Linked DNA regions of Homo sapiens. The protein of the gene in region 2 interacts with the protein of the main gene of each other region in a pairwise test. Each region holds a gene or a part of one and is shown on either strand. Other genes may lie near its edges.

Region 1 (3,654 bases), on a different chromosome or scaffold from region 2:
GTTCTCACTTATAAGTGGAAGCTAACTATTGAGCATACGTGGACATAAATATGGAAATAATAGACACTACAGACTACACTAGGGGAGGGAGGAGGGTGTGTGAGTTGAAAAACTACTGATTGGGTAATATGCTCATTACCTGGGTGATGGGATCTGTATCCCAAACCTCAGCATCACCCAATATTCCCATGTAACAAACCTGCACATATACTCCCTGTATCTAAAATAAAAGTTGCAGTTTTAAAATTAACTATATTTATTTACAGACAGCATGATTCAGTATGTAAATGATCTCAAAGAATATACACACACAAACACACAACTACTAAAACTAGTAAAAGTTCAGCATGTGGAATAAATATTAAAGTTTTGAAAGAATAACACCCATGACTCAAGAATTTTATATTCAGAAATTTTGTCCCGCAATAATGAAGGAAATACTTTGCCATAAACGTTAAAAGACATTATTCAGGGGGAAGAAGAGTATATGTCTGAAATTCAGATCTTCACAAAGAGAGAAAGAGCACTGAAAAAGAAGTAAAGGTAAATAAAATATTTTGTTTTTCTGATTCTCAACTAATATATAAGATAATGGCTTAAAGTAATAATATCAACAATGTAGTGGGCGATTACAGCTTATGGATAAGTGAAATGAATGACAGCAACGTTACTCAAGATTGAGGATACTCTGCTCTAAGGTACCTGCACTACATGTGAAGGGGTATAGTGTTATTTGTAATTAGACTTAGATTAGTTGTAAATGCATATTGCAAACTCCAGGGAAACCACTAAGCCTTTATATATATATGTATAGTGTTATTTATATTTTTAAAATATATTTTTATATATTTATAAAAAGTTTATATTTTTAAAATATTTTTATATTTCAAATATATTTGTATGTTTGTTTTATATTTATATATATACCTTTAGGCATATTAGTTATATTATTATTAGTTATATTAGTTATATTATTAGGCATATTAGTTATATTTATATATATACCTTTAGGCATATTAGTTATATATTATATATAACTATATATAATATAATATATATTAGTTATGTATACTAGTTATGTATATATAATATATAACTAATATATATTAGTTATGTATATGTAATATATAACTAATATATATTCGTTATGTATATGTAATATATAACTAATATATATTAGTTATGTATATTATATATAACTAATATAGCTATATTTGTGATGTATATTAGTAATATATAACTAATAAGCTAAGAGAGGAAAGAAAATTGAATAATATAAAATAATCAATTGAATAATACAAAATAGTTAAAAGAGGGCAGAAAAAGAGAGGAAGGGAAAAAAAAGCAAAGAGCAAGTACGGTCAATAGAAAACAGTGAAAAATGGTAGGCGTTTTAATTTTCTGGGGTTGCTCTAACAACGTAGCAGCACAAACTGTATGGTTTTTAAACAACCGAGATTTAGTCTCTCACAGTTCTTGAGGCTAGGTTCAAAATCAGGATATTGGTAATGTTGGTCCCTGCTGTAATCTGTTCCACGCTTCCCTATTAGCTTCTGGTGGTTGCTGGTACATTGATTTTGGGCTCTGAGCTTTCAGAACTATGAGACAATTTTTTTGTATGAGGTTTTAAGTTATAAAGTTTGTGACAATTTCTTACAGCAGCCACAGGAAATGATTACCGCTACAGTTGTACCTGAACAGCACACTATATAGCAACTGATTTAAATGGCATTCATAGAATATTCCATCTAAAGGCAAATATCTATTCTTCTCAAGCTCACATTGAAAATTAACCAAGCTATAACACATTCTATACCACAAAATACACGTTAACAAATGTAAACAATTGAACTCATACAAAATGTTTTCTTACGCAACAATAGAATTTAACTAGTAATCAGTAACAGACAGCTGTAATACTCCAAAATATTAAGCAACACTTTAAAAATAGGCTTAGTGGGTTTTATTGGTAAACTGATGAATTCTACCAAAAGTTGGAGAAGGAAATTATTAAAATTCTCCCCAAATTTGTTTCAGAAAATGAAAGGAGATGGACTATTTTGTAACACATTCTATGAGGTCAGCATTACCCTAATCCAGAGCCAAGTAAAGACATTATGAGAAAGGAAAACCAGAAACCAGTATCTCTCATGAACACAGATGCAAAAATTCTCAACAGTACGTTAGTAAAACAAATCCAACAAAATATATATAAAAATTGTGCACCACAAGTAAGTGGGATTTATTCAAGGTATGCAAGCTGGTTCAATCTTTGAAAATTATTAATGTAATCTCCCATATCAATAAAGAAGAAAAATCATATGATTATATCAACTGAGGCAGAAAAGCTATTCGACAAAATTCACACCATTCATGATAAAAAGTCTCAGCAAACTAGGAATAAAGAGGAAGTTTCTCGGCCGGGTGCATCTGAGGTCAGGAGTTCAAAACCAGCCTGCCCAACATGGCAAAACCCTGTCTCTATTAAAAATACAAAAATTAGCTGGATGTGGTGGTGGGCGGCCTGCAGTCCCAGCTGAGGCAGGAGAATCGCTTGAACCCGGGAGGCAGAGTTTGCAGTGAGCCGAAATCGTGCCACTGCACTCCAGTCTGGGTGACAGAACGAGACTGCGTCTCAAAAAAAAGAAAAAAAGAGGAAGTTTCTCAACTTCATTACAAATCTGAAAAAAAAAAAAAAAAAAAAAGACTCCTATAGCTAACATCATACTTATAAGTGAGAGACTGAGTACTTTCCCCCTAAGGTCAGAAAAAAGGAAAGGATATCCCCTCTCACCATCCCTGTTGAACATTGTACTAGAAGTCCTAGCTAGTGTAATAAAACAAGCAAAGACAAATAAAAACTATACAAACTGCTGGCCAGGCGCGGTGGCTCACGCCTTTAATCCTAGCACTTTGGGAGGCCAAGGCGGGCAGATTGCCTGAGCTCAAGAGTTCGAGACCAGCCTGGGCAACACAGTGAATCCCTGTCTTTACTAAAATACAAAAAAAATGTAGCCAGGTGTGGCGGTGTGCGCTAGTCCTGGGAGGCTGAGGCAGGAGAATTATTTGAACCTGAGAGGTGAAGGTTGCAGTGAGGTGAGATTGTGCCACCACATTCTAGCCTGGGTAACAGTAAGAGACTCCGTCTCCAAAAAAATACACCAAAAAAAAAAAACCATACAAACTGCAGAGTATGAAACAATTAACTTTATTCTCAGATGACATGATTCTCCATGTAGAAAATGCCAAAGAATTGACATTAAAAAAAAAACTCTTCTATGACTAATAAGTAATTATAGCAAGGTTGCAATATACAAGATTAAAATACTAAAGTCAGTTTCCTTTCTATGTGCCAGCAATGAAGAATTGAAATTTGAAATAAAAAAAAAATTACAATAGCACCAAAAGTAAAACAGAAAAAACTCTTTAAAAAGGTACAGAATCTACATGTGGAAATAATAAGCTTTTCAGCAGTGTTAGTTATTAGGAAAAAGCAAATCAAAACTGCATTGAGATACCATTATGTTCCCACTAGAAAGGCTGTAACTAAAAAAAAAAAAAAAAAGGAAATAATCAAGTATTAACAAGGATGTGAAGAACCTAGAAACTTTTTATATTGCTTTTTATAAGCTTTTGTATTGTTACTCATATAAA
Region 2 (3,654 bases):
GGGGGCTAGATGCAGGGGGACCCAGGAGAAACAGTCTGGAGCCTGGATCTCAGCTCTGCTCCAAACCGGCAGGGAGTGCTGTCCAGGAAGGCTACTCCTCAGCCCAGGGCTGTGCCCACATGCCCAGTGCCCACTGCCCAGTGCAGGAGCCTATGAGCCTGCAGGACAGAGCCCCTAACACTGCACCTGAAGATCTGGTCATGCCCCCTGTCCTCCAGATTTCCTGCAGGGCTGGGGGCTTCCTGAGGGCAGGGCTGGATTTACTCGGCAGGGCCTGAACTGGCCACATGCAACCATAAACCAAGTGGAAAAGAAAACAAAGGGGCCTAGGGGCCTGGATCCAAGTTCTGCCCACCCTCTGAGCCTTGGCCTGCTGGGTCCTGGGCAAGATTCTGGGCCCTGCAATGCTCACCAATGACATCATCATCCCCTTCCTCCTCACAGATGACCATGCGCTCCTCATCACTCGTCATGTCCTCACTGGCCGCACGCTGAGAACGAGAAGCTCGGGTGGGCAGCAGCGGGGGCCGCCCAGTGGCCGCCAAGGCACCTCCCTCACCAGGGGCTGCAAAGGGTCCTGGAGCTCCATACTGGGTAGAAGGCTTTGGGCCAGAGTACGATGCAGGGCCAGACACCATCTGCAGGATAGGTGGCAGAGAGGGTTCAGCGGGGCTGCTGCCCTGGACAGGTTCCCTGCCCACCCCCACTAGGGGGCCTGCACCCTAGACCTGCGTCAGTTCCTGTAGCGCCTGACTGTCTACTTCTCCGCCGTCCAGGCTGTGTACCCCGCTGTGGGAGAAAGCTCGGGGCCGGGCTGAGCCAGGTCCCCCAACTGTGTGTAGCCGTTCTGCCCCACAGGAGCTGCTCCCCGGAGCCTTGGTGTCTGAGCTCAGGAGTGTCTGGGCTGCAACGGACAGGAGCTCAGAGGACACTGTAAAGTAGAGAGTGGCGCTATGACAGTCAGTAAGCCTGTCACCAGCACCTAGACTGGCCCAACAACCCATAGATATTTCTAGGTACTAGGCAGAAGCAGGCTGGAATTTCTGGGCCACTTGGTGAAAAAAAAAAACCACCACCCACCACCAGTCCAGCATCTCATTCCTGCTGATTCCTGCCCTCTGGGGTTGCAGCAGGCCCATTCCCTGGGGGGCAGCCCTCCTGAAAGTAAGGAGGCCTGGAGAGAGGTTCATGTGGTGCTGGCTAGCCAACCGCTGGCCTGAGCCTCGGTTCCCTCATCTCAAAGAGGAAGTAACTAGTGTCCCCACTCTCATAGAAGTGCATATCCATAGCAACTATCCATCTAACCTCACAGAACTGCCATACCCATAGGCTCACTCCAAAAATGTGCCCCAGAACACCGCCAGGCACACCAGACAACCTCAATAAGTGGAAGCAGCCCATCAGGGGTGTTTGCGAGCTGCAGTGGCCCCAACTATGGTGCTGGGGGCCCGCCGAACTGGGGTTTACATTCTGGCTCTGTCATTTGCTTGTTTATGACTTTAAGCAAGTGATTTTGCCTCTCTGAACCTCAGTTTCTTCTTCTAGAAATAGAATGGGGTTTTGCAGACTACAGCTTATATTCCCTGTAGTGCCAGGCACATAGTAAACACTCGTTAAACAACAGTTGATAACGAGATTGCTGTTTGGGAATCTTAGTATCTGTGTGGATCTCCCTGGCTCCGTCACATGAATCAACTGCCGGTTCCTTTACGGATAAGGGTCGCCAAATTAAAGCGATAGAGCAGAGAGGAGCTGCTGGGGCAGGGGAGGAGCAAGCAAGGGGGTAGCTGGTGGCTCTCGGGGAGGGAGGTGGCAGGGTGGGAGAGCCAAGGGGCTGACTAACCCCCAGGGGCAGCAGCAGTGCCCGTCTCCGACATGCTCCGCTCCCGCGTCTCCTTGTGCCCTCCTGCCAGCCCCAGGCTCGTGGGCTTGGCCTCTGAGCTGGACTTCTTTCGGTCCTTGTTGCACCACTTCCAATCTGGGTGGGCCTTGAAGTGGGCCTCCTTCACCTGGCAGGAGAGGGCAGGGCAACCCTTCACTCACCCACCCCACCAGAAGAAGCTGGGAGGAGCCAAGAGGCAACAGCGTTACCTGGAAGGCCAGGTCGTGGTACTTCTGCTTCTCCTTGGGCCCCAGGGCATACCACCACTCGCCCAGGATCTTGCTGACGGTCCGGTTGTCCTGGTTGGGATGACGCTGGTGGACCAGGGCCCGGTGCCGCTTGCTGAAGATCATGAAGGCATTCATGGGCCGCCGGATGTGGTCCTTCTCCCGCTGCATTAAACACAGCCCAGAGCGGGACAGTTAGGACCTGGCAGACAGGTGTGGGTGGCCACGGGGTGAGCACAGGACAGGCAGGGATAAAGTACCTTGTTGGGGCTGCGTCCATCCTTCTCAGAAGATGAGTCCCGTTCCTTGGGTAGGGCACTGAGGGACTGGGTCCGACGTTTTCCGGGCGGTAGAGGCAACTGGATCTCAGGAGACATGATGGAGAGGAAGCTGCGGCGGGGCAGCAGGGACAGTGAGGGCCATGTCTCTGGCCATCCCACCCCCAAGTCCCAGGCCTCAGGGAACTCACGCATCATCATGGTCACTCTCTGTCTCACTGTCCAGCCGGGGCTCTCCTGGGGGGCCGGAGGCCTCCTCCTCCGTGGTGGGAGGCGGACCCTTACCAGATTCCACCACCCCCAAAGGGTGTGGGGGTCCGGGTCCTGGGCTCTCAGGGCATGTGGCTCCAGGGGGCCGCTCAGGGTCAGCACTCCCTGTCCCACCTGGTGGCCGTTCATGAGCAACAGCTGCCGACTCAGCAGGTTCTGGGGACACAGAGGTAGATCAGAGGGCTCCTAGGCCACCTGGACCCCACACCCTTGCCTCCCCCCAGTCCCCACCAGCCCTCACCTTTGCTCTGGTTGGAGGCCACTGGGTGGCTGGCAGGTTGCTGGGCCTCGCTCGGCTGCACGGAGGGGTCAGGCTGGCTGGGTGCCAGGAAGGGGACTAAGGAGTGCCAAGGGAACACAGCCACAGAGCGAGGTTCCACATTCGTCCACACTGTGGAAAGGAGCCAGGTGAGCTGTGCAGCAGGAGAGCCTGGCCCCAACCCCAACTCAAGCTCTTCCCCACCCTAGATGAGGTAGCCCCACCCCTTTTGTCTACCCCCCACCCCCAACACCAGAGCCTCTTGGACTCGTCCATGCAACGTCACTCAGGAAAAACTCCTCCCTGAAAGGTTTCTAGATTTATAAAAAAGAAAACAGAAGCAGGGAAGGGAAATAGTACTCACGCCCCACTCCTCCCCCCACCAATCTCCACCAGCCCTGCCACCAGGGACCAGGCCAGAGGAACGATTTGCTCCTGCCACAAACCAGGTCATGCTTGGCTGCCATCCCACACTCCCAAGGCCCCAGACCTCTACGGGCTGGGACCCCCACCCCCGTCATGCCACATTCCCAGCAGCCCAGTCGCCGCCCAACACAGCGTCTCACCTTGGCCTCATGCTCTCTTTCCCTTTCCTGAGGCATACGGCCCCACGTCCCCTCCCCTCCAACTCTCCGTTCACTATGCACAGGCTGTGGGGTCTCTTACAACTGTGGTGTGGGAGAGGTCCTGCTCCTTGCCTTCCTCCCCCACCACAAACACAGAGTGCCAGACCTGCCC
Region 3 (3,654 bases), on a different chromosome or scaffold from region 2:
AGCAAAACCGAAATAGGGAAAATGCTAAAAAAAAACAAAAAACAACAACAAAAAAACAAAAACCCAGCCATTATCTTATGACTTAAATGTTCTTTAAAAGAAAAAGATGTCCGTTTTGAAATAATGAAGCAGAGACGTTTTAAAAGTGATCTTGGGTGGAGAACGGATTGGAATAAGTTCCACATTTTACCCATAACTACTATGATAAGCATACATTTACAGTATGTATCAGCTGAAAAACAAAGATGTTTCCATTAAAAAGTAACAAATTTTCAGAATTTGATTTTTAAGCATACTGCAGATTATAGTATAGTAACCGAATTTCCTTTTTAAGTGGATTAATAGCTGTCTATAAACCTTTATCTGGAACTTAGGGGCCAGATGTGCTTTAGAATTCATATTTTTCAGGTTTTAGAAAAGAAATACGGAAGAGATGTTAAGGAAGATGGTGGAGTAGGAAGCTCCAACAATCAGTCCCTCCACCAAAGCAGCTATTGAACTAGCAGCACCTGTCAGAATCAACCACTTCGGAACTCTGGACACTAACGAAAGACTTGCAGCATCCTGGGGAGTGCTAAAGAACAAAGAGGCTGGGAAATTTGGGTGAATTTCAGCATTTGCATAGCAGCTACCATCCCCTAGATCCCATCCCGCAGCAGGCAGCCATGGGAACTACAGTTGTATGAATTTCTCCTCAAACATTAAAATAACAAATACCAAAAAACAAAGAAATACGGTGTGTATGTGACATATAATATCCCCAACAAGACCCAGAGCAACACCTGGAATAAAAAGTACTAGTATGTTCCTGCAACAGAACTTAGTACTATTCACAAGTACAATTAAAAAATATGTCTACGTAAAATTTATATAGAGAGAAATAATAAATATAACATATATAAATAGCCTCATGTAAGTTCAGTTCAAGTTTTGCTAACCAATAAAGTCAGGTAAGATCATGACCTAGGGTAGGAGACGATATGTCATACTATCGACTGCTGTAGGTGGAGTTGTGTCCTCTAAAACAATATGTTGAAGTCCCAATCCCTGTGAATAGTGCCTTTGCAGATACAATTAAGATGCCAGTTAAGATGACGTTATACTGGAGTAGGGTGGGCCCTTAAACCAATATGACCCTATCCTTAAAAGAGGCACCAAGACAAACACACACAGAGGAGAATGCCATGTGAAGACACACACAGAGGGAAGATGGCCATGTGACCACAGAGGCAGAGACTGGAGTGATGTAGCTGCAATCCAAGAAATACCAACGTGTGCCTGAAACCACCAGAAGCTGGAGGAGCCAGCATGGCCCGCCTTGCTGATGCCCGGACTTTGGACTTACAGCCTCCAGAATCACAAGAAAATACATTTCTATTGTTTAAAGCCACCCAGTTGCTGGTACTTTGTTACAGCAGCCCAGAGAAACCAATACACTAACTAGCCAAAGTACCACTTGAAGGTACCATAGCTCCAAACTGTTTTTCAAATTTTAATTTATGATCTCTCCACTAAGAAAAATTCCCCTTTGTACACATCATTGACTACCCTGGGTCATTTTATTCAGTAAAAAAAACTTATATGATACAGATTTCACCTCCTTTTCAATTATATTTGTTTGACTGATTTAAATTGTTTCAGACTGTTTATAGATGGTCTTAAAGGTATAACTGAGTCACTGCATATTTTTTCCCAACTTACAGACCCAAACGTACCTGAGTTTTTCCAAGGCACTTTCTCGTTCAATGCGAAGTTTAGCTAAAGATGCGTTCTCAGCTTTAAACTTTTCTATTTCTGTTTCCAATTCAATAATTTTCTCTCTCAAAACCTGGGATCGAGCATTGTCACCTATGAAATAGGCCATAAATACTGAACTTCAAAAAAGGCATTACTGCAGCAAAAACACTAGCTAGCTAGTAACACTAAGAGCCAAGAATATGGCAAACATCTGTGCTATTAAAATGCATTAGAAACAATGCTTCAAACATGAAAAGGAAAAAAAATTAAACCTAACTTTCCTGAGGAAATCAGTGGGAATTTATGGAAGAATTAATCTACCTCAAAAGAGTATCGACCTGACAAGGAATCAACATGATACATAAAAAGAAATCATTCAAATCAATTTTTCAAAGACGAATATATATAAATAGCTTAAGAATAAGTAATCCACAAGAGATCTGAAGAGCTAATCAACACCAAAATCAAAGTTTACCCCTACTATTAATCAAATAAATGCAAATTGTTTTCCCTTTATCAAATTTGCTATTTAAAATGTAAAATAGCCAGTGCTTCTGTCCTTCAAGCATTTTTATCAATTAGTACTTTTTTAGAAACTAAATGTGATCCACAAGGCTAAAGAAATGAGCTAAGTTATACAACTCTGTCATATTAAAACTACATAGAAAAAATGACTGGAATGAAATATCCCAAAATGGCATAGCAGTTACTTTTGGGTAGTTAAGTTGTAAATATTTTTGCTTCTATGCTTTTTAAGCTTCCAAACTTTGTACAAAAAAATTACTTTTAAAATCAGAATTTTTGAAAATTAACGTTATAATTTCTATTTTAATTTCTATTTTAAAGCACCTATGCTCTGCTAGTTTATAATATAATATAATGGAAAGGAATCTTTCAGGGTGAGTTTAAAAAGTCCGTTACATCAACAGAAATACTACACATCCGTTAAATGGAATGAGGTAGGTGTGTACATGCGTTAGAACAATCTTCAAAATTTATCATAAGCAAGGTGCAGGACAGTATACAAAAAGAGTCTTTTCATTTGTATAGAAAGGTAATTATATACAAACTGACACATATGCTTTTATATGCACGGACTCTTTAGAATACACAAACGAAATGGTAATACTGGTACCTCTAGGAAGGGGTACTTGAACCAGGTCTGGGGAAGAAAGGAAACGTAGAAGCTTTGATGTTATCTCACTTTATTAAAAACTAATTAATTTTAAAGCCTCATATAGACCCATAAAATAAATCAAATTTTTACAAATCACCCATTAATTTGACTTAATTCTATTGAGCAATAAGGAAAGTTAGGATTTTAAGCATTCTGACAGCATACTGATTAATGTTAAATTTCTAACATTCTGATACATATTTTATAATGCTCTGACTCACCAGGTGGTTGGTCTTGACTTATGTTTAACTTGAGTTCATTTCCCAAGTGTGAATCTGACTTTGGTTTTGGTTTCAAAGAAGGAAAGAATTTCATCATCAGCTCCGATGTAGGAGGACTTCTGCTCCTCCTGGACTTGCTCAAGTCTTCTCCCCTCTTGACTGGTGCAATCTTCCTTTTTATTGTTTTGTCCAGGATACCTATTTCATTATTAGGGTAGCATGTCTGCGGCGTCCCATAAGTGGATTCATTCCCAAGAACAACATCATGGTTACACAAATTCTCTTCAAGGTCAGTCCAAGTTCTTTCATCATCAAAGTCCATTTTACTCAGACTTAGGGATGAGGATCTCGAGGGCTCAGACACTTTATGTTTTATGCTTTCCATGATAGACTCATCGCTACTGTAATCTTTATCAGACAAATCCAGATCAACATCTCTCCTTTTATCTTCTTGGGTCCTGGTGTCCTTAAAAGGCCCCTTATCATCACAGACTTGTGGGCTATCCTCTCTGCTGCTGA

The links.
Region 1: the proteins of CIC (region 2) and TRIM22 interact in a two-hybrid assay, tested with the Homo sapiens proteins (one large-scale study listed by BioGRID and IntAct).
Region 3: the proteins of CIC (region 2) and CPAP interact in a two-hybrid assay, tested with the Homo sapiens proteins (one large-scale study listed by BioGRID and IntAct).

What each region holds. Positions count from the first base shown.
Region 1 is NC_000011.10:5,699,636-5,703,289, reverse strand, and holds part of TRIM22 (E3 ubiquitin-protein ligase TRIM22), read right to left. Parts: intron 1-3,654. UniProt on the Homo sapiens protein: Interferon-induced E3 ubiquitin ligase that plays important roles in innate and adaptive immunity.
Region 2 is NC_000019.10:42,286,165-42,289,818, reverse strand, and holds part of CIC (protein capicua homolog), read right to left. Parts: exon of another isoform or gene 3,483-3,654; intron 3,049-3,482; coding exon 2,899-3,048; intron 2,814-2,898; coding exon 2,579-2,813; intron 2,500-2,578; coding exon 2,370-2,499; intron 2,275-2,369; coding exon 2,092-2,274; intron 2,010-2,091; coding exon 1,844-2,009; intron 932-1,843; coding exon 729-931; intron 639-728; coding exon 413-638; intron 1-412. UniProt on the Homo sapiens protein: Transcriptional repressor which plays a role in development of the central nervous system (CNS). In concert with ATXN1 and ATXN1L, involved in brain development.
Region 3 is NC_000013.11:24,902,211-24,905,864, forward strand, and holds part of CPAP (centrosomal P4.1-associated protein), read right to left. Parts: coding exon 3,136-3,654; intron 1,849-3,135; coding exon 1,716-1,848; intron 1-1,715. UniProt on the Homo sapiens protein: Plays an important role in cell division and centrosome function by participating in centriole duplication. Inhibits microtubule nucleation from the centrosome. Involved in the regulation of slow processive growth of centriolar microtubules.